Homo sapiens: one gene and its partners. The protein of the gene in region 1 interacts with the protein of each later gene in a biochemical or structural test. Each region holds a gene or a part of one and is shown on either strand. Other genes may lie near its edges.

Region 1 (7,343 bases):
GGGGCTGGGAGGGGTACTGGGGGAGGTGGAGGGGGCTGGGAGGGGTGCTGGGGGGAGGTGGAGGGGGCTGGGAGAGGTGCTGAGGGGAGGTGGGGGGGGTGGGAGGTGGGACTGCTTCTGGTGCCATCTGGTGGCTTCTTTCGTGCAACACATTCTTACCAAATGCCCGCTGCACACCACGCATGCACTGTCCTGAGCGCTAGGAACAGCAGCAACCAGGACGGGCAGGGCTCAGAGCCTCCCCTGTGTGCCAAGAATACAGACAGCCCAGGCAGAGGGCATTCGGTGCTCCAGACACAAAGTGAAGGCCCAGCTTCAAATGTGGCTGGATCCAGGCACACATCCTGAGGTTCTGCTGGTCTGGACTGCTAACCCACTCACGAGGATCCATTCTCAGGCAGCCCCAGCCTGTCTCCCCACCTGGGCACGTCATGGCTGGGGTCTCTTGATGGGCAAGGCCTCCATTGATCGAGTCCCCTTTGGACTGGGGCAGCTCTGTAGGGACCAGCCCCACAGGGTCAGTGGGTCTCTCCGTGTGCGGCGACGAGAGAGTGTAGAAATAAAGACAGAAGACAAAGAGATAAGAGAAAAGGCAGCTGGGCCCAGGAGACCACTACTACCAATGCATGGAGACCGGTAGTGGCCCCGAATGTCGGGCTGCGCTGTTATTTATTGGATACAAGGCAGAAGGGGCAGGGTAAAGAATGTGAGTCATCTCCAATGATAGGTAAGGTCACGTGGGTCATGTGTCCACTGGACAGGAGTCCCTTCCCTGCCTGGCAGCCGAGGCAGAGAGAGAGAGGAGACAGAGAGAAAGACAGCTTACGCCATTATTTCTGCATATCAGGGACTATTAGTATTGTCACTAATTTACTACTGCTATCTAGAAGGCAGAGCCAGGTGTACAGGATGGAACATGAAAGTGGACTAGGAGTGTGACCGCTGAAGCACAGCATCACAGGGAGACGTTTAGGCCTCTGGATAACTGCGGGCAAGCCTGACTGATGTCAGGCCCTCCACAAGAGGTGGAGGAGCAGAGTCTTCTCTAAACTCCCCTGGGGAAAGGGAGACCCCCCCCCCTCTTTCCCGGTCTGCTAAGTAGTGGGTGTTGTTCCTTGACACCTTTTGCTACGGCTGGACCACGGCCCGCCTGGTAACGGGCGTCTTCCCAGACGCTGGCGTCACCGCTAGACCAAGGAACCCTCTGGTGGCCCTGTCCGGGCATAACAGAAGGCTCCCACTCTTGTCTTCTGGTCACACCTCACTATGTCCCCTCAGCTCCTATCTCTGTATGGCCTGGTTTTTCCTAGGCTATGATTATTGAGCAAGGATTATTATAATATTGGAATAAAAAGTAATTGCTACAAACTAATGATTAATGATATTCATATATAATCATATCTAAGATCTATATCTGGTATAACTATTCTTGTTTTATATTTTATTATACTGCAACAGCTCGTGTCCTCTCTCTTGCCTCGGTGCCTGGGTGGCTTGCCGCCCACACAGCTCCATTCAAGCCACGATGAAAAACGGGTGGCCATCTCTCCCCCACAAGAGAAAGGGGTACAAGGCCAACTGACATCCCCTGCTCCAAGGATCCCTGAAATGACATTGGGTTCCCCCCTTACCCAGAGACATGGCTGGTCAGGAGATCAGAGCAAGGGGGTGGACCGAAGGCTTAAGTGCTGAGCGGGAGGTCTCAAGTAGGGAGCTGGGAACCTGGAGGCCTGGCTTCCGTACTAGACCCCTGCAGTCCACCTCTTCCCTGTCCCACTGGGCAGTCAGGAAAGAAGGGAAGGGTCAGTGAGACCCCACACACATGAAACTTGGGGCTGGGGAGAGGCTGCAGGCCCAGCAGTCCAGCATCTGGGTGGGGGCAGGCACCGGGTAGAAGCTGGGCATAGCTGCTGGGGTGCATGCGGTGGGCTGGAGTGGTCAGCTGGCGACAGACGAGGGGTGGCCTGTCCTTCCTGGTGCTTTCCAAGTCCCATTTTCCTCCCAGAGTGGTGGGAGGAGAGGTGGCGGGTAGCTTAACAGCCCAAGGCTACATCCTGCTTGCTTCTTACAGGCAGGACAAGTCCCCTGCTAAATCAGCTCCGCGACCACCATCGCCTGGTCTCCCGGTGAGCAAGGCCAGATTTGCCTTTTAGGAAGTTCACTGACTGCAGGAAGAGGCCAGCTGGGAGGGACCAGCAGGACCAGAGAGGAGCTGTCACAGTGACAGCTCCAGTGAGGAGGGGTGGCCAGGACCAGCGGGGGTGGGGTGGGGGCATGAGCACGGAGAAGGGGTGGCCTGCTGTATTCAGGGGCCACAGCGAATCAGCTGGGTAGGAGAGGCGCCTCTGGCCCAGGGCTTCTCACTCCTGCCCTGCCACCGGCCCTTCCTGGCTCCCCTGCCGCTTCCCCTCTGGGCCTGGGACTGTCCTCCACCGGCGGCTCCCTCCAGGGGGGCTTCCCTTGCCCCCGCCGAGCTCTGAAGGTGCCTCTCCTGGAAGATGGCCTCCAGGCCCTGACGCCACCCGAAACTCCTCAGTGATCACTCCCTTGCAGTGCCACGACCCCACACTGTCCCCAGTAGGCACATGGGCGGGACCTCTAATGCCTGGGCAGGCAGGGGGTTCCCGGGGCAGGTCAGCTCAGTGATGAGAGGGGCCCGTTTCCACCGCCCCCCGCCCCCACCCCCACCCCACACGCCCGCCTGACCTGCTGAGCGGCCGGGGCCTGCAGCGAGGCCGCGAGGATTGCGGGCGGACGCCTGGGGGAAGCCTGACACCTCCCCACCTCCATGTCCCCCACCCTAGGGGCGAGAACGGAGCCGCCCAGTCCACGGGGAGGCGCAGGGGCGGGGCCGGTCGCCATGGGAACCCGACTCCCGCCCCGCCCGGCCGCGGCGCAGACAAAGGCCGCTCCCCTCCCCCGGCGGCCGCGGCCGCGGTTCCCACAGCTCCGGGGCTGCGCTCCGGCCTCCTCCTCCTTTAGCTGAAGCTCCATTAACTCTGCACAAAACCTCGGCCCGCCTCGGCCGGGCCCAGTGAAAGGCGCTCCCGGGCGGGGGCCCTCGGGGAGGCTGCCCGTGTCCTCGCCCCAACCCAGCCCGAGCGAGGAGAGGGGCCATCCCCGGGCCCGCGCCAGGCCCCCAGCCGGATGCCGGCTTCCAATGGGGAAACTGAGGCACGGGGCTTGGTCATGCAAAAGGGGCCGGAGCGGCTGGGACTGAGACCCGTTCCTTCGCCGCGGTCCGCATGGGTCCGGTGGCCAGCACCGTGCTGGCTGTTTTAATTTGGTTGCCGATATATAAAAATCAGATTTGACATTAAAACTCGGATTTTAGTGTTTTAAAAAAGGAGTGTTTTGGGCCACTGGGATCCTGATTTCTCACTTCGCTGGAGGGGGTCGCCCAGCCGCGAAGCCTCCCACCACGGCTCTACCAGGGCGGAGGTCGGTGGCCGGTGTTCCAGGGAGCAATGCTCCGCCGAGCCCCGGTCGCTTTCAAGTGGGAATAAAAGTAGCTGTGCGGCCCCGAGCGCGGCAGAGACGCCGAGTGGGGCGCTGCCCCCGTCACCGCCAAGGCAGCCCCCCGCGCCTGCCCGCCCGCGGGGCTGACTTCAAGGACCCTGCACCCAAAGGCGGCTCCTCGGACCTGGGATAGTCAGGGTGGGCTTCCTAGAAGAGGTGGCCGCTAAGGAGGAGGAAAGGTTCTGGGCAGCAAAAAGGATCCGTTTGGGGCCGCTGCTTGTGGGTAGGAAGGCCCCGGGGTGACGCCGCTGTCCCTGGTCCTGACAGTCCAGCGGTCGCGCCTCTCTCAGAGGGGAGGTCAGGGCGAGCCGGGGCAGGAGGCCTGGAAGGTTCCCGGGGCGCACCGCGGACCAAGGCCTGCAGGTCCTGCGCAAGAAAGCCAGGCCGGCCCTGTCCCAACGCCTTTCGGCTTATTTTCCTATCCAGTGCCGAGTCTTTAGAAGGTGCTATTCATATTTCTGTCTTGAAAAATACTTCCCATGGTTTACCCCTGGCTTCTTCGCTTTTGACGGTTCTCCCTCGTTGGGGAGGGCGCCGCCGGGGTAGGGAAGCCCGGGCCGAGCCCAGACGCGGGCGCAAGTCTGGAGAAGCGCGCGGCCCCCAAGAGGTGAGAGCCGGAGGGAGGTGTCCGCCCTCGGCGCCCCCCCCGGGAAGGGGAGGGCTGGTTTCCGCTCTGCCACCGCCTCCGAGGCGCAGGAAGCAGCGCATTTGTCTCCGGGAACCCCCCCACGCCCCGGCCACCCAGCCCGGGAAATCCGCCCGGGCCTCCCGGCCCCGCCCCGGAGCCCCGCCCCGCCCGCCGCCGCCGCCGCCTCCGCCGCCCTCCGCTCCGCTCGGCTCGGGCTCGGCTCGGGCGCGGGCGCGGGGCGCGGGGCTGGGCCCGGGCGGAGCGGCGGCTGCTCCGGACATGTCGGGCCCTCGCGCCGGCTTCTACCGGCAGGAGCTGAACAAGACCGTGTGGGAGGTGCCGCAGCGGCTGCAGGGGCTGCGCCCGGTGGGCTCCGGCGCCTACGGCTCCGTCTGGTAGGGGCGGGGCAGAAGGGGTGCTGGGTGGGGGCCGGGCCGGGCCGGAGAGCGCGTCCCCTCCTCGCCCGCGCGAGGTTCTCGGCGTGGGGAGGGGCCTCGCCCTGCCTCCGCCCCCGGGCGCCAAGCGGATCTGAGGAATGAATGGGGGGGCGGGGGTGGCGGCGTAAAGAAACTTTCCAAGCAGACGCCGTTACCGGGAGGGAGGGGGGTCCTCCGGCCTCTCCCGATTCGGACTGCTCCCCACCAGGCCTGAGGCCTGGGAGGTCACAGCTGGCGTGAGGGTGGGTCTCACGCGACCGAGCCCCGAGCCACCCTGATGTCCGGGCCCCTAAACGTCTGAGCACCCACCTGAGATTCACTGAGTCGGGTCAGGCAGCCCCCCGGGGTCTAGCGGATGACCCTCCCCCGCCCGGGCTGGGGGCTATTGTCTGAAAAGGGAAGCCCCGCTCCCGGAAGCCAAGATCTCTCCCCCTGGGATGGCCTCAGACTCCCCCTCAGACCACAAACCCCACTTAGGCCCTGGGGCCAGAGGACCTGGCCTGGGGCCCAGGAAGACGACAGAGTCTGGGTGGGGGAGGGGGGTCAACTGGGCCAAGGTCTCTGTTAGACCCGGGTAGCCAGGGCTGGAGGGGCTTAGGGTGAGGTAGTTACCGGGAGTCCTAAGTTTCAGCCTCCATGTTGACTGGGAGGCTGATCATGGGTACAGGCTTTGAGAGGTGCAGCTGAGTCCTCACCATGGCCAATGCCGCTTAGCTGCTGCCCACTGGGGGGTCCTGGTGGGGCGCAAAGGCAGAGGCAGCCAGGGCAGAGCTCTGCCCCAGGCACTTGCAGGTTGGAAGTGGGACCTCTAGGCCCACCAGATTTGGAGCTCAGGAGCCGGCATCAGGGGCCGGGGGTCCCAGGGCAGGCTGTCTTCTGGTGTGGTCCCTAGCCTTCCATCAGAAGCTGTAGGTGGGTCATTCTAGCCATCATGCCAGCACAGATCTGTCTTCCTCTTTGAGACCTGAAGGGCAGGAAGAGGGTCTGGGACGGTGTGGGAGTGGCCATAGGGGACTAGGGTGGGTCATGGCTGGACTCGCCGTCTGGGAGTTGCTGAGAGGTGTCCGGTTCTCTGAGTGAGGCCTGGTCTCCCCCCTTGCACCCCTGGCCCATTTTCTTAGTTCCACTGCCAAGGCTGCGGGCCAGGTGCCAATTCCCTGTCACCTGACCGCACAGATGCAATTGGCCAAAAGAACTTGCTGCCCCACGTGCAGGGCCACTCCCCTCACCACCTCAGGAGCACCTTTCCCTGGTCATAGGCTGGGAGCATGGCTGCCCCAGGCACCTCGACCTGCGCCCATGAGCATCCCAGACCCAGCAGGAGCCGCTCCTGCTCCCCTTGTGTGGGCATGGGGGGTGGCCTCAGCCTCCACTTGCTCTGAGACAGGATCCCAAGAGACAGAAGTGGGAGGGAGAGAAGAAGCAAGTATCAGCCAGAGGGAACAGGCTGTGCAAAGGCCTTTCCTTTAGCAGGGCTGAGGGCAGTGGGACATGGGAGGGTGGGATGAGGGTCACCTGCAAAGGGAGGGTGGGCTCAGGAAGCTGGTGCAGGGTAGAGGGTCTGGACCTCTGGGAAGTGGGGCTGGGCGAAGGGCTGTTCTGTGGGTCCAGCTGACGCCCTCAGCTGTACATCACCTTCTGTCCCGGTTTTGTTCCAAATAATGATGCAATAAACACCTCTGACCAACTTTCCCTCCGTATTTTGAACATTCGGAGGCACCAGGGGTCCAGGGGCTTTGAGGTGGCTCTAGAATCCCCCTCTGTGAGCCTCCTGGGCCCATGGGGTCTATGGGGCAGAGGGAGGCCCGTCTGCTGCAGGTGAATGCCAGTGACTGTTTTCCTGCTGTGTTTTTCCACGCTGGATGGGGCACCTCTCCCCCAGCCTTGCTTTGAATGGGGGCCCCTGGTTGAGCGTGGGAATCAGTGGGGCCAGGGGACAGAGAAGGTCCAGGACCTTGTGGGGTGAACACACGCATGGTGGTCCAGCCCCAGGGGCTCCTTCCCAGCAAGCGCGGAGTGGGTAGGCCCGAGGGTGGGAGGCCGAGCTGGGGCGGCGGGGCCGGGGCAGAAAAGCCCCACGGCCCCATCCCCACGGAGAAGCGGCGAGAGGGACGCCGCCCGGGTCCACGCGCGTGCGGCCGCCCTCGGACCCCTCCCGGCGCCGCCTCACTCGCCCGCCTTCCAGTTCGGCCTACGACGCCCGGCTGCGCCAGAAGGTGGCGGTGAAGAAGCTGTCGCGCCCCTTCCAGTCGCTGATCCACGCGCGCAGAACGTACCGGGAGCTGCGGCTGCTCAAGCACCTGAAGCACGAGAACGTGAGCCGGGGGAGGGCCGTGGGGGGAGGGCGCGTGCGGGGGCGGGGCCGCGGCGCAGCCAATAGGCGGGCGAGCCCTGGCGATGGGGGCGGGGACACAGGGGGCGCGGCCTGGCACTGGGGGCGTGGCCCGGGGGGAGCTGAACGACAGCCGGGGGTTCGTCGCCCGGCCCTGACGCCCCCCGCCACCTAGGTCATCGGGCTTCTGGACGTCTTCACGCCGGCCACGTCCATCGAGGACTTCAGCGAAGTGTGAGCGGCGGGGCGGGCGAGGCAGCGGGGAGCGCGTTCGCGGTGGGGCGGTGGGGCCCTGTCCTGACCCCCTGACCCCGCCCCAGGTACTTGGTGACCACCCTGATGGGCGCCGACCTGAACAACATCGTCAAGTGCCAGGCGCTGAGCGACGAGCACGTTCAATTCCTGGTTTACCAGCTGCTGCGCGGGC
Region 2 (6,825 bases), on another chromosome or scaffold:
AAAAAACTTTGTCTTATTTATAGTTGTCACCTCAGAGCCAGAAACAGTGCCTGGAATGTTCATGCTCAATTAATATAGATGCTTTATGAGTAAGGAGAGCATTAGGTTGATGCTTGACCTCATTGGCCATAGTTGACCTATGAGGCTGTATCCAAGGTAAGAAGGTAACTGAAACGAGCAGGATGGTAGTCTAAGGACCCAGGAGGATCCATATGCTGACAGACCTCCCTTGATTTCTAGGATACAGATCACATGGCTTTGGTGTTACGTGGGCCTCAGGTTGACAAATAGACTAGTTATGGGAAGCTATGAAAGGTAGGAGTGATCCTATTTTTATTAATAATATTGTATAAAAAGAATATAATGATGGCAATCCCTCTTTCTGGTGAGTCAGATGAGAGAGAGAGGTGGCATTAGCATCAAGAATGAAAACAAGGCCCTTAAATTCCATTCTCCCTCTCTCTGGGCTGGTTTTGTTGAAGGTAGTATAAGCTAACTGGTATGATGTGAAGATAAACATAGCCCTTTTTCCCCATAATGCCACACCCCATTAATTATAAATTCTTTTGGGAAACCCAAGATTTGGGTTGGAGGGTAGACATCCCTGCACTTAAAATGTCCATGATGAGGACAAGTGCTGAGAGGTAACTTTAACATAGGCCATTTCAGCAATGTGCAGGAAGACCCTGAGCTGGCAGAGAGAGGAAAAGATCTGCCATGAGATAGAAGCTACCAAAATGTCTGTACAACGTCTAGGGCCACATTATCCTATTTCATTTCTCAGATATCAGTGGGGTAATCATGTCCTGCGTCTCCCACCCCTTTCACATCTCACACACACACACACACACCACACACACCCCTACCTTGATCCCACTGATAAAATCCCAGCTAATCCACTGTACTGGGCTGCATCCTGAGAATATCATGAAAATGTAGAGGCTCTTTCCCTAAGCCTAGGATTAGTTGTACCAAGTAGACATAAGGGGTGCCCTGTAGTCTTCTATGTTTTGGTTAGCTGCAGACAAACAGAAACTATGTTCTGAAAATCAATTATTAGTGAGAGAGAGAAGGAGAGGAAGTTGAAAGGGAAGATGGAGAGAGATATGGTTTGGCTGTGTCCCCACCCCAAATCTCATCTTGAAGTGTAGTTCCCATAATCCCCACATGTCATGGGAGGGACCAGGTGGAGATAATTGAATCATTGGGGTGGTTTCCCCATCCTGTTCTCATGATAGTGAGTTAGTTCTCAGAGATCTGATGGTTTTATAATGGGCTTCTCCTTTTGCTGGGCACTCATTCATGTGAAGAAGGACATGTTTGCTTCCCCTTCCGCCATGATTGTGAGTTTCCTGAAGCCTCCCCAGCCATGCTGAACTGTGAATCAATTAAACCTCTTTCCTTTATAAATTACCCAGTCTCGGGTATATCTTTATTAGCAGCGTGAGAACAGATATATATATACACACACACACACACACACACACATATATACACATATATATACATACATACATACACACACACACACACACACGTTTTAGAATTTTTGTGAGCAGTTTTAACAGATTATGGATTAGCAGCCCTATCATACTAAGGTGGAAATACCACATTGTGTGGCATTTGTAAGATTTTGAGGGCACTTAGAGACCATCATTGTTTCTTGTGATATTTATTAACATTTTCATGACAGAAATGCATTTTCTTCAAATAGCCTCATTTTGTATCTAAGGAATATTAGTTTTATTTAGCAGTTATGCTGGGTTCTTAAAGGAGATTCACTAGACCCTCACTAATTCTCTTAGAACTAAGTTGGGTAGATGCATCATGGAACAAGACAGGCAAAGAAGAGGTCTACAAGAAGTTTCCTGCGTTTGTAAAGAGAAGACTGTAAAGAATTTTAGGACTCTTGGGGATATTGAGGAATGCAAAAGTGAGAACAAAGATGGAAAAGGGTGGCATTTTATGAGGATATGAATAAGTAGTGAGACAAGTTCATGGAATCAGACCTGAATATGGTAACTACATTCATTTTGACAATGCTGAATGTTTTCCCCACTTGTAGAAAAACTATAGTAAACAAACTGCTGTGGAACTAGAAATATGTGGATAAAGTGAGACCCTTTGTTAAATGCCGGGCTGCCAAAATGCATATATAACAGATCGGCATAGTTTCCACCTGTTTCCTGCGCCTATCTTATTTTTTTTTCTCACTTTAGGTATACCCTCTCTTTAGAAAATTAGCTAAAACTGAATTATCAAAACAGATCAGAGTACTGTTCATATCACTAAACAGTTCTTCTCTTGTCTAAAAAGAACTGAAAGACTTTCTTTAAAATAATGTGTTTCTCGAATGCATCATGTAGATAACTAACTGCTTGACAACAGACTGGAGAAGTAGCAATGAGAAATTTAAAACCAAAGCTACTGCCCAATTGAATCAACACTGGAAAAAATTTCAAATGGAAAAACAATTTTTTTAAAAAAATCTATTCTAATTGACCCAAACTTCTTTTGAAATGTCGTAACATTTGCAGTTCTTTTTCTCACATTAGTTGTTTTGGGAGATGGAGAGAGAAGCATCTATTTAATCAATGCGTTCTAGACCTAACAATTGTGATGTCAATCAAACATTTTGTCCACCATTTCCATCATGAGTAATCTGAACTGTGAGGTTTTGCTGACATAATTAGTGTTACACTACAATGGCACTACTACATTACTGTTACTATATGGGGACGGTACTTTCATTTTAAGTAGGAAAGTGTTAATAATTTGGCTTAATGTTTCTTAACTAAAATTAGTTTTAAAAGAGGACTGAGTTGGCTTATACACATGTATGCGGTCCAGAGACCTACCTGTTAAAATGTCAATGCCATTACAATTTCACTTTTATGCCAGATATCATTCTTGAACTTCAGGCTCATTAACTCTCATACTATCCCCCAAAACCTTTCAACAATTTTGAGAGTGTATTTTATGTTAATATATAAACTAGTTCATAATTTTGTTCCAGACTAGAAATCAGTATTTAATAAATGGAAAAAATAAGACACTGAAAATCTTTTATTGAATAATGTAAATTCTCACAGAGGCCTCTGATCATACTTTTCAACTTGTGCCTATTTATTGAATAACCAACATCCTTACAGTTAATATTAAAATCTTTAAGTTGTGTGGGGTTTTTTGGAGGGGAGGGATGGGCAATTACCAGCAAACTCCGCCTCCCCCAAACCTCACCTAACCCGAAGCTCCCCGCCTCAGGCTCCCGGGGAGCCAAGGGGTGGGCTGAGGAACGCAGCCTACTTTTACCCACCTCCCTACCTAGTGCTGGGAAGTGACGGAAACGGAGACACCCGGCTCCTGGGGCTGGGCTCGGAGGACCCATCCTGCTTTCCCTCTAGCAGCCTTTCCGGAGCTCACCACCTTTCCTCCCCTCACACCGCCAAAGCCCTGCCTAGCCCTTCACCGCCGCCTGCACCCGCGCCCTCCTCCAGCCGACAGCCAATCACAGTCTTCCACAGCTCCGGGTTTACAGAAGTAACGCTCCTTGGGCCCTCTGGTCCCGCCCCCTCCAGAACTGCTTCCCGCCCTTCGGGCTCCTTGTCCAATCATGAGCGCCCGAGTGCTCTTTGATGCCCGTCCCCTCTACCCGCCCTGCCGAAGACCCGCCTTCTTCTCCTTAAGCCTGACGGAATCACCTGACTCGGAGGCGCTCCCTCAGAAGGAAGGCAAGAAGGGGCGTGTGGGTGAAGGGGAGGGGCGCCAGAAGGAAGGTGGGGATGCCGGGAGCGGGGCGAGCGGGCGGGGGTTGTCAGTCCGATCTCGCGAGAGAGGACGGAAGCCTGTGGGAGCCCGTGGCCTTTAAAGTGCCGTTCAGCCTTTTCCTCCAGGGGTGCTTTGTAAACACGGCTGTGCTCAGGGCTCGCGGGTGACCGAAAGGATCATGAACTAGTGACCTGGAAAGGTGAGTAACGATGGGCAGAGGTCAGCAGGGCTGGAGACTGTAGGGATACGGAGAAAGAAGGCGCTAACATGGCGACGTCGCTCAGCACAGTCCCCACCCCCCGTTTCCCATCACCTCGGGTGCTCCTGACGTGCTCCTTAGCCCTTGGGGCGATTGTGGCTGTGCTGCCACCTCGGCGGCCCGCGCGGTGTGGGCTTTGGGAACCTGACTGGCTGGGCCGGACCGTTAGGTAACCAGCGTTCGTTGTTCCGGCCCCTCCCTCTCGCGCGCTTTCCTAAGGCAGAGGAAAAAGGAATAACGGCTCCCTCTTAGACCCCTCCCTCCGAATTATCTTCACCCTACTTGGGTCAGTTCAGAGGTCCTCGGGGCGCGCGTCGAGTCAGCCGTGTGCGCAGGGAGACCTCTCCCACCCACAGTCCTTGGGTTGGGCGGGGAGAGGGCCCACTCTGGTCTCCCCACCCAGTATTCAAGCGATTGAGGACCGTGTATTGGTGATGGTGGCGGGGAGGAGGATCGGGAGGCGCGGCTGAAAATAGAATCAGGGTCCCTGGCTGCGGTGCAGCTTGAAGGAAAGAATGGTGTGGAGAACCTAGGAGCTGGAAGTCTCGGCCTTTTCCGTCCTTTCCGCCACCCTCACAATCCCGCTACCCCCAGCTTTTTCCCGGTGGGGCGGGGCTTAGGTGTGGGTGCAGACTGATTCTGGTATTTTCCCTTATTTTTTTTTTTTTAAATCTCTGGGTGGACAGCAGAGCGTATGTAAAGAAATAATTTGCTTTTCATCAATGCCCTAGGGACCAGGGCCGAAAGGGAGTGTGTGTACGTGTTTTCTATGTTCGCTCGTTTAACCGAACCTAGGAGGAAAAAGAGAGGAGGAGCTGGGAACTATTTTTGTGCCCCTAGGTAGTATAAAATTGGCTTTCTTTAATGGAGAGTCTTAAAACTGGTGAGGCCAAGAGCAAAACTACTGTGAATATCATGGAGTAAAAGAGATTACTCCTGATGGACCTTAGGCATCAGAAATTTTAGTGAAAGAAATGTTTCTCTTAAAATTCAACACCTATTTTAAATAGTGATGTAAAGCATTTCTTTACATGTACCTTCAGGTTTTCTAATGCTTTCCTGGCTATTATTTAACTGGTACTAAGGGATTGACTAATCCCTAAATTATAATGTGAAAGTTTAAATTTCTTAGAGGTTTTAAATTATGGAGACGGTCACAATGCATGCATTTAAGATATACATTTAAAATCAGAACAAAAACTGACTTTCTTTGAGCACACTTTTTGTCCTATTTGAAGAAACATGACCACTGGCGTTATCATTGTGAGTAACAGCCGTTCTGATCTTTAAATAGCCATATAGCTTTGGTCTCTTGAATCAAAATTATGAAGGTAAAGCTTTATTTATAAAAGCTTGTTAAAAAGTCAAACCTACAGGTTTAAGTGTCTTAAAGTACAAACACAGAAGCAGTTTTATCATGTATTAATTTTTTTTTCCTTACTTGAGGAATCCACCGTAAAAACTTTGTTTCAAAAATGTTAGGAACATCCTTGTAAAATACGTTTTAAATATACAGATTCCCCTCTGCAGATTAAGAAAGTTCATGGATCTTTAAGGCCATCAGTAGTTGCGTAATAGTTAAGAATCCTCGTCTTTGTAAAATAATTTCTAGGAATCTTCCAAATTTACCGTGATGTGTAAAAGAGTTTCTGAGAATCTTCCAAATTTACCATGATGTGTATGTTGCCTTCCTAAGACGTTTAATCTTGCTTTGAGAGAATGCTACTGCCATTAAGTTTTAAGAACTGATTTAAAATGTAATATCGTGGAAATTTAGAACTTAGTTGTTATGTATTTTAATTGTCAGGAAGGAGCTTTCAGGGACTTTTTTTTGTATGTGTAGTGTACATAATACCTTCTATAGCTCCGGGTGCATTTCCTGAAAATCCTTTTTAAAATATCTTATCCGAATGTTTATTTCGTATTTGGGGCACTGTATTTTTATTAGTTAAATATGTAACCCAGGAATTCCTGCACTTTTTTCTTTGGCGTTTTTTGTTTTTAAGCTAAGATAATAGTAGAGGCTGGGCGTGCGCGGTGGCTCATGCCTGTAATGCCAGCACTTCGTGAGGCCGAGTGGGGCGGATCATGAGGTGAGGAGATCGAGACCATCCTAGCTAACACGGTGAAACCCCGTCTCTACTAAAAATACCAAAAATTAGCTGGGTGTGTTGGCTCCTGTAGTCCCACCTACTCGAGAGGCTGAGGCGGAGAATCTGTTGAACCTGGGAGGCGGAGGTTGCAGTGAGCCGAGATGGCGCCACTGCACTCCAACCTGGGCGACACAGCGAGACTCCGTCTCAAATAAATAAATAGTAGAAATGGTTGTCAGCATTTTAACAAATAGTGGGGTTGGGGTGGTCTTTATTGGTATTCAGGATCTGAAAGCTCTATGACTATGGTAGAAAAATATGCCATACATCAAACATCTATCTGTAAGTAGCATTAACTCTTCAAAAAATAATGTACATTTTTTCTACCCAAATTTTTGTATTTTGGAAAACTTCGGTTTTAATGATACATACGTTCTTGTCTGGTAAATTGTTAGATCGTGTTAGATCAGGTAAACAATCTCACCAATGTGTGCTTTTTCTACTAATTTTGTCTAAAGGCTCTTCCTTCCAATATGAAATATACCTATAAGTAGGCATTTCTTTCTCTTTTTTATTCTTACTAAAATGTCATTGGAGAATATAAAGTAGTTGAAGTCTCCCTTATGAAAACCAGATTTTCATCAGAACCTCTCGTTAAAAATTCAGTGAATAGCAATAATTAATATTCAACTGATTTTTATAAAA
Region 3 (7,024 bases), on another chromosome or scaffold:
GAGGAAGCAGCCAGGGACGGGTGTCTGCACGCCTGTCCCTATGGAGGCGGGGCTGGGGGGGGCCCTGGAACCAGGATGCAGGATAGATGGTGACTGACACCCACAGTTCGTCCTGCCCGTGGGGGATTTTGACGGGTGGGCATGGCCCTGGAGGAGAAGGGGGTGTTTGGAGGGGAACAGGTCACACTCTCGGGAAACAAAGTGGGGAGGCTAAGCCTCGAAGTGTTTCCAAGAGCAAGTCAGAGCTCAGAGAAGGGTCCTGTCCCAGACTTCACTGGGCTTCTAGGGGATGCTATCTTATTGCTTTCCAATTCCCCATGGAAGCGGCCAAGGCCCTCTGTGTGGTCAGGCTTGGTAAGGAGGACCCAGGAGATGAAGTAGCAATGGGAGAGGAGGGACACAGGCTGGGGCCCTGGGGCTGATGACAAGAAAGCAAAGCTGGGGTGGGGGTATTGACGACTCCTCCTTCCCTCGCTGCACACGGCCCCTCTCCACCAGCAGCACTCCCCAGCTGGCCGAGGCCCAGGGTAATAGATCTTTCCCCTCCCTAGACTCTGGGCAACTCCAGGGCAGGGATGTTGTACCCATGTGTACTGAATGAATGAATGAAGGAAGGAACAAATGAATGCATGCATGCATGAGGCTGGTATTCCCTGCCCCCTGCCCCCAGCACTAAATGTGCACCGTGATTGACAAGCAGCTGTCACTATCACTTCAGAGACCCAGGCCAGCTCTCCAAATCCCCACAGGCCCTTCCACTGCCTCACTAGATGAGGCTGGGGAGCCCTGACTCTGCAGGCACTTCCGGGAGCAGCCCTCAACACACCACTGAATGCTCAGAGCTATGTGGCAACTGGAGATGCCCTCCGGGCTCCAGTACTGATTAAAATTCAGGTGTTTCAGACAGAATTTATGCTGGAAATTTTAGATACCTTTAAGAAAAATAGGTCTTATCTAGAGCCATGGTGGGATTTTCCAGGAAAAACGCCACTGTGCAATTACGGGAGCATTTCCCCAGACATTTCCCCAGTCATTGAGACAGTAAACAATGGGTGAAGTGAAATACTGAGAAGGATGGGCGAAGATCTGGGTGCAGTTTATGCAGTGAGAAGATGGCTTCATTTACTGTCCTAGGGCTGGTTTTCAAACACACCTTCATTTACTGTCCTGGGTTTGGTTTTCAAACACACCTTCATTTACTGTCAGGGTCTCACTGAAAGTACACTAAGAAAGCTGGAATTAGGAGCATGACTTCATGAACCTGCCAACTGCTCTTCCCTGGGGTAAGTATCAAAACTAATAAATGCTGGACTTTTTAAAAGCCTGCCCCAAAATACAAAGCACTTTAAATGACAGCTGTACTTTAGTGACAAATACTCCCCACATTATATATGAGAATGAATCAGACATAAAGCACAGCTTCTCTGTAAACTTGACCAGCTGCAGAGCTCCGTGGCATCGTCAGCTTACCTTGGCTTTTTTGTCATCGCTTCCAGTCCCGTCTTTGCTTTTACTGACCATGCGAGCTGATAAAATATAAAATAAGAATGCTTGTCACACTCCATTTTCACTGTTCACAGAAAGCCAGCTGTGGTGAAGCTGGATTTCTCTGGGATAGGTCCATGTTTGTTTAGTTGGGTCTGGTGGAAACCCAGTTGGTTCTCTTTTCCCTTGAATCTGCTAGGCCTCGCATTGTTAGTATCAACACAGCACACTGGGGTCACTGATTAGCGCAACCTGGCAAGAGGGGGCAGCAGGCTGGCCGAGGGTGGGACCATGCAGAGGGGACGCAGCAGAAACTGTCACGGGGACATGATGGCATGGAGGCTATCTAAGGAAGGTGCAGTCTCCCTAACCCACAGGCTCCTGCCCTGTTTCTGCCAGGGTCAGCCTCACCCCACTGGGACCAGCCCCACTCCATGGATGGGTGTTTTAAAAGCCTCAGGGCCATGGATGTTGGTAGCTCAGTGAGGACCCAGCCTCCTGCAAGATCCAAGGATGGGGGTGGGTGCATTGTCTCCACACTGCAGCCAGGCTTGGCCCTGATTCCCTGTGAGGTGCCTGCTCACCCTCTTGGCCTTGGAAACTGCCTGGAACCACCCGGCTCCCCTGCCCATGTGGCTAGATTGCCAGCAGTCCTGATTTCCACCTTCCTGGCCATCTTATGCTGACCAACCCATCTCCATTTCTGGTCACACGCCTCCAGAATAGGAGAGGCTGGCAGGGTTGTCTTTGTCCCCTAGTTGCTGGTTGTACCCCCAGGGCCTGCCCCTCACTAATGGTGGCTTTGGCCACCAGCCCCAGCTGCTCTGAGACGAGCCAAGCCCAGCCCAGCCCTGAGCCAGGCCTGGTGGGTTTCTTGCCACTTACTGGTCTTCAAAGGGCACGAATTCTCACTGCTTCCCCAAATTAGCTACAAACCAGTTACCATCATACATTCCCACAGACAACATCAGCCTTCATCACACTCCTTGGTGAAACCAACCCGCTGACCTGTCAGCCAGCATCAGCGCTAACTCACCCTTCTCCTTCTCTTGACAGTCACTGCTGAAAACTGATCATAGATTTTCTTCTTTGGTTTCAATATCACATTCCCTCTACCCCATGGACAACTGGGTCTCTTGGAGCTTCTCATTGGCTATTGTCACCTGGATTTCTAGAGGGACCAGCAATGAGTATGCCCAGAGGTTTTCCAACTATACTATGTGGCAGAATCACCTGCTAAAAGACTCCCAGGCTTACCCCACAACTGGGTCTGTAAGCCTAAAGTGGCACCTGGGAACCTGCACTTTAGTAAGAGCCCCAGGCGGATCTGACTCACGTGTTCTTTGTTTTGCCCACATCAACCAGCACCATCCACGGCACAACAAAAGAATCTGCTAAATCGGCATTTCCCAAACTTCCTCCAGGAAATGTTAGCAGGTAGAATCAAGTAAGTTTGGGAAACCCACTCTGTGACCTTCTCAGAGGGTCACAATGGCCATTAGTACATTAAAGGCTCTGACAAGTCCTGCAGCAGAAAAGCCTGTTTAACTTACTTTAGTCTTTTATTTTTTTCCCCCAGTCACTGGGCCATGGAACTCTTTTTTAATCCAAACACACCTATGAACCTCTAGTAGGCCAGTATTCAAGAAAACATCATTTCAGGAAATATTGTAGTAACCTGTCAAGTCAGTTATTTGTCCCCTACTGTTTTGGAATTTAACAAAGGATATAGGATATATTTTTTTCTCTCTTAACTTTATTTTATTTTATTTTTTGAGACAGAGTCTCACTCTGTCGCCCAGGCTTAGGGTACAGTGGTGTGATCTTGGCTCACTGTAACCTCTGCCTCCTGGGTTCAAGCACTTATCCTGCTTCAGCCTCCCCAGTAGCTGGGACTACAGGTGCCCGCCACCACGCCCAGCTAATTTTTTGTAATTTTAGTAGAGACAGGGTCTCACCATGTTGGCCAGGCTGGTCTCGAACTCCTAACCTCAAATGATCCACCTGCCTTGGCCTCCCAAAGTGCTGAGATTACAGGCGTGAGCCATCGCCCCCAGCCTCTGTCTTAACTTTTAAACACAGGCTTCTTTATAGCATTTCAAAGTTTTCCCTAAAAGTAAAATCTAATAAAAATTTAACAGATGCTTGCAACTGTGAGCTTCAGTAACATCCATTTCTGGGCTCTGCAAATAACTGTGAAATGCTAAGGGTCCCAAATTTATGAACAAGCTCGCCTTGTGGCTCTGAGGTCTCCTGTGGGACACCAACTCTCCTCTCCCTGATACTTGGGACTCTCCTCCCACCAATCCCTCCCTGCAGGGCTGCTGTGGTCGTGCTCCTGAGGGCTCAAGGTGGGCCCTGCTCAACCCCCTCCAATGCCAGCATGAGGATCCCCTTGTCCTCTGCAGAGGGAGGTGGTGGCATGTGGACCAGGGAGATCTTGTGTCTGCTCCTTGTCTTCCTGCCACAAGGCAGAGTGGGTGGGGGCAGGGCACTGGGCCAAAGGCACAGCATGAGCTCTGGGCCACCTCTGGATGCTGTGTGTGTCACCTGCTGTGTGTGCCCTGCACATCTCTGTGTTAGGCGTCCACACTCCAGCACCTCCTGGGAGGCGTTGTGGGATGCAGGACAGGCGTGTCTTTCAGAGACAACCTACCTGGATCCCAAACCTGGCTCTGTCACTTACTACTCATTGGCCTTCGGCAAGTTACTGTACTTCTCTGAGCCTCCGTTTCCTCATCTGCAAAGTGGGGCTGCTTATGCCTACATGGGAGGGTTGGAGAGTTCTAGACACCATGAGGGCACCCGTCATCCTGTCGGTGGAAGGCACCCACCAAACCTCCTGTGGGCTGATGGGCCGTTGTGGACAAATCAAGTGGCCAGAGAGTCAAACAAGGTGGGTAGCACGGAGCGGGGGTGCTGGTGACATGCAGAGTGGCGGGCAAGCGTGAGGGGCGCGTGCGGCCACAGCCTGAGCACGGGAGGAGGCCGAGGGAGTGGAGCAGCTGCACCCAGGTGTCGATTTAGTGGCGTCCTAGGAACGTCAGAAGCAGCAGGAGTCGGGAGGCCTGGAAGCTCAGTGGCAGTGCCCGCAGCCTGGGAGGCCTGGGAGGTCCCCAGGGAAGGAGCGAAGAAGCTCAAGACACAGACCTTTGAGTTGAGGGACCCGGCTGACGGGCTTCCCCCGCGGAGCAGCAGCAGGCTGCTTTTCAGAGGGCTCTGGAAGGTCAGCCTCTTTTGTGTCCTCTCCCAAAGAGGGGCCCCGGGCCTCTGGCCCCTCTCCAGGGGCCCCTGGAAATGCAGCCCTTCCCAAATGCTCCTCCGAGTGCGCCTGCTCCTTCTGCACGTTGGGTGTGATTTCCACGTGAAACGTGAACTCCAGGGGGGCATCCTGCCCTTTGGCCCGCCCTACACTGGGCCCGTCGGGCTCTGAGGCTGGGATCTCTGTGGAAACTTTGGAGAGGAAATCCACAGGGAGGGGGATGGCACCCTCCGCTGGGAAGCCTGGGATGCTGGTGGCTTCTCTGGCGGCTGTCTGGGGAGGCCGCCCATCTTGGGCTGGGGAGGCCTTGGAGGGAGGGGAGTCTTGGGGGGAGGACTCATCGACGTCGCGGTCTTCATCCACCTCCTCCTTGCTCCCCGGCCTCTCTTTGCCCCCTGCCCCCTTCAGCGGCGGCCCCTCCTGGTGCAGGTCTCCTAGAAGCTGGTGCTTGAGCAGCTCAGGGGCGTGGCGGCCGCCCTCTGTGTCCTCAGGTCCTGTCCCCGAAGGTTGGCGTGTGGCCTCTCTGGGGCCCTCAGGCAGGAGGGGAGCCCCAGGCATGCCGGACATGAGCTGGTGGCTCAGACCTGGGGGGCCTGGCTCTCGGAGGAAGCCTTCCTGGACCACCTTACCACTTTCAGGCTCTGTGTGGAGATACGCAGTGGTGGCGGGCTTCGGAAAGGCCGGACCCTTCTCGGCCCAGTCCCCGCCTTTTTGTCCCCACTCCAGGGAGGGCTCCTGAGGGCCTCCTGTTGGAGGAGGCGCTGGGCAAACGGGACGGTGCTGAGGAAGGCTCGCGGTCAGCGGGACGGGAGCTTCTGGCTCTTTCTCCCCGAGGCACGGCCCAGAGACCCCAGAGGCCTCTCCGCAGGGTCCAGGCTGGACGTGGGCGCTAATCTCATTGGCCAGGGGCCTTTCAGGCGCCTTCCTCTGCCGGCCCGGAACTCTCAACTCCTCTGGTTTGAAGAGGCAGCGATAGCAAAAGGTTAGCAAGGGCGCATTAATCGCTTAAGAGAGGGAGCATCATCCTGGACAAAATGACACTGAGAGGGCATCCCAGGCCCCCTAACAAAGAGATGGGAGCACAGCTCTGGGCTCGTCTCGTTGCCTTTGCTTGCTTGGAATGACAGCTCTCCTGGTCTAGCCGCCACCAGCTCGCTAGGTGGCTCTCCCCTCTCTGGGCCTCAGTTTCCTCATCTGTAAAGAGGGTTCTTGGACGTGGTGACCTCCGAGGGCCCTTCTGGTGTGGGTGTTATTCCTCTGCCTATGATGGGCTCTGGTTGGGCACAGAGCATGTCACACATCTGGAGCCGCCCTGGGCTTAATCTACTGGGAAAGCGGGAGGGCTACAGAAGCTTCTCCTGCTTTCTAGGGAATTTGAGCCTCCCAAAGATTCTAGCCTCTAGATGGTATCTGGTTTGGGTGTAGCGAGAATCCCCTTTCCTCTCCCTACCTCTCACTGTTCTCCTGCCCCCGCCCCCCACCCCTTTTTTTTGGTTTGAGACAGAGTCTCACTCTGTCGCCCAGGCTGGAGTACAGTGGCACGATCTCAGCTCACTGCAACCTCTGACTCCCTGGTTCAAGCGATTCTCCTGCCTCAGCCTCCCGAGTAACTGGGATTACAGGCACGTGCCACCACACCTGGCTAATTTTTGTATTTTTAGTAGAAACGGGGTTTCACCATGTTGGCCAGGATAGTCTTGATCTCCTGACCTCGTGATCTGCCCACCCCGGTCCCCAAAGTGCTGGGATTACAGGCATGAGTTTTTTTTTTCCTTTCTTTCTTTCTTTTTTTTTTTTTTTGAGACAGGGTCTCGTTCTGTCACCCAGGCTAGAGTGCAGTGGTGCAATCACAGCTCATTGCAACTTTAACTCCAGGGCTCAAACAACCCTCCCATCTCACCCTCCCAAGCAGCTGGGACCACAGATGCATGCCACCACGTCTGACTAAAATGTTATTTTTCATTTTTGTGGAGACGGGGTCTCCTTATGTTGCTCAGGCTGGTCTCGAACTCCTGGGCTCAAGCAATTCTCTTGCCTCTGGGATTACAGGGATGAGCCACCATACTTGACTTCTGCTCCCCTTTTTGGTAAATGAAACCAGTGAAACTAGTGCCCACAAACCCCGCCTCAAGCCCATTCTCTGACAGATTTGGAAAATCCAAAATGTGTGATCATCAAGAATGGAGTCTTTACTGAGAGACCTGCCATAAGACTCCTCGAAAAAGAAGCCCCATTCAGATCTATCCAGGTCACTGACCACAGACAAGCCCTTGGCAC

The links. The genes of interacting proteins can lie anywhere in the genome.
Region 2: of the proteins of MAPK11 (region 1) and ATF2, one has a biochemical effect on the other in vitro, tested with the Homo sapiens proteins (4 studies listed by BioGRID and IntAct).
Region 3: of the proteins of MAPK11 (region 1) and MAPT, one has a biochemical effect on the other in vitro, tested with the Homo sapiens proteins (2 studies listed by BioGRID).

Annotation. Positions count from the first base shown.
Region 1 is NC_000022.11:50,267,376-50,274,718, reverse strand, and holds the start of MAPK11 (mitogen-activated protein kinase 11), read left to right. Parts: upstream 1-4,338; 5' UTR 4,339-4,426; coding exon 4,427-4,542; intron 4,543-6,769; coding exon 6,770-6,899; intron 6,900-7,091; coding exon 7,092-7,150; intron 7,151-7,236; coding exon 7,237-7,343. UniProt on the Homo sapiens protein: Serine/threonine kinase which acts as an essential component of the MAP kinase signal transduction pathway.
Region 2 is NC_000002.12:175,165,192-175,172,016, reverse strand, and holds the start of ATF2 (cyclic AMP-dependent transcription factor ATF-2), read left to right. Parts: upstream 1-3,813; 5' UTR 3,814-3,967; intron 3,968-4,307; exon of another isoform or gene 4,308-4,384; intron 4,385-6,825. UniProt on the Homo sapiens protein: Transcriptional activator which regulates the transcription of various genes, including those involved in anti-apoptosis, cell growth, and DNA damage response.
Region 3 is NC_000017.11:45,981,542-45,988,565, reverse strand, and holds part of MAPT (microtubule-associated protein tau), read right to left. Parts: intron 5,701-7,024; coding exon 4,636-5,700; intron 1,527-4,635; coding exon 1,471-1,526; intron 1-1,470. UniProt on the Homo sapiens protein: Promotes microtubule assembly and stability, and might be involved in the establishment and maintenance of neuronal polarity.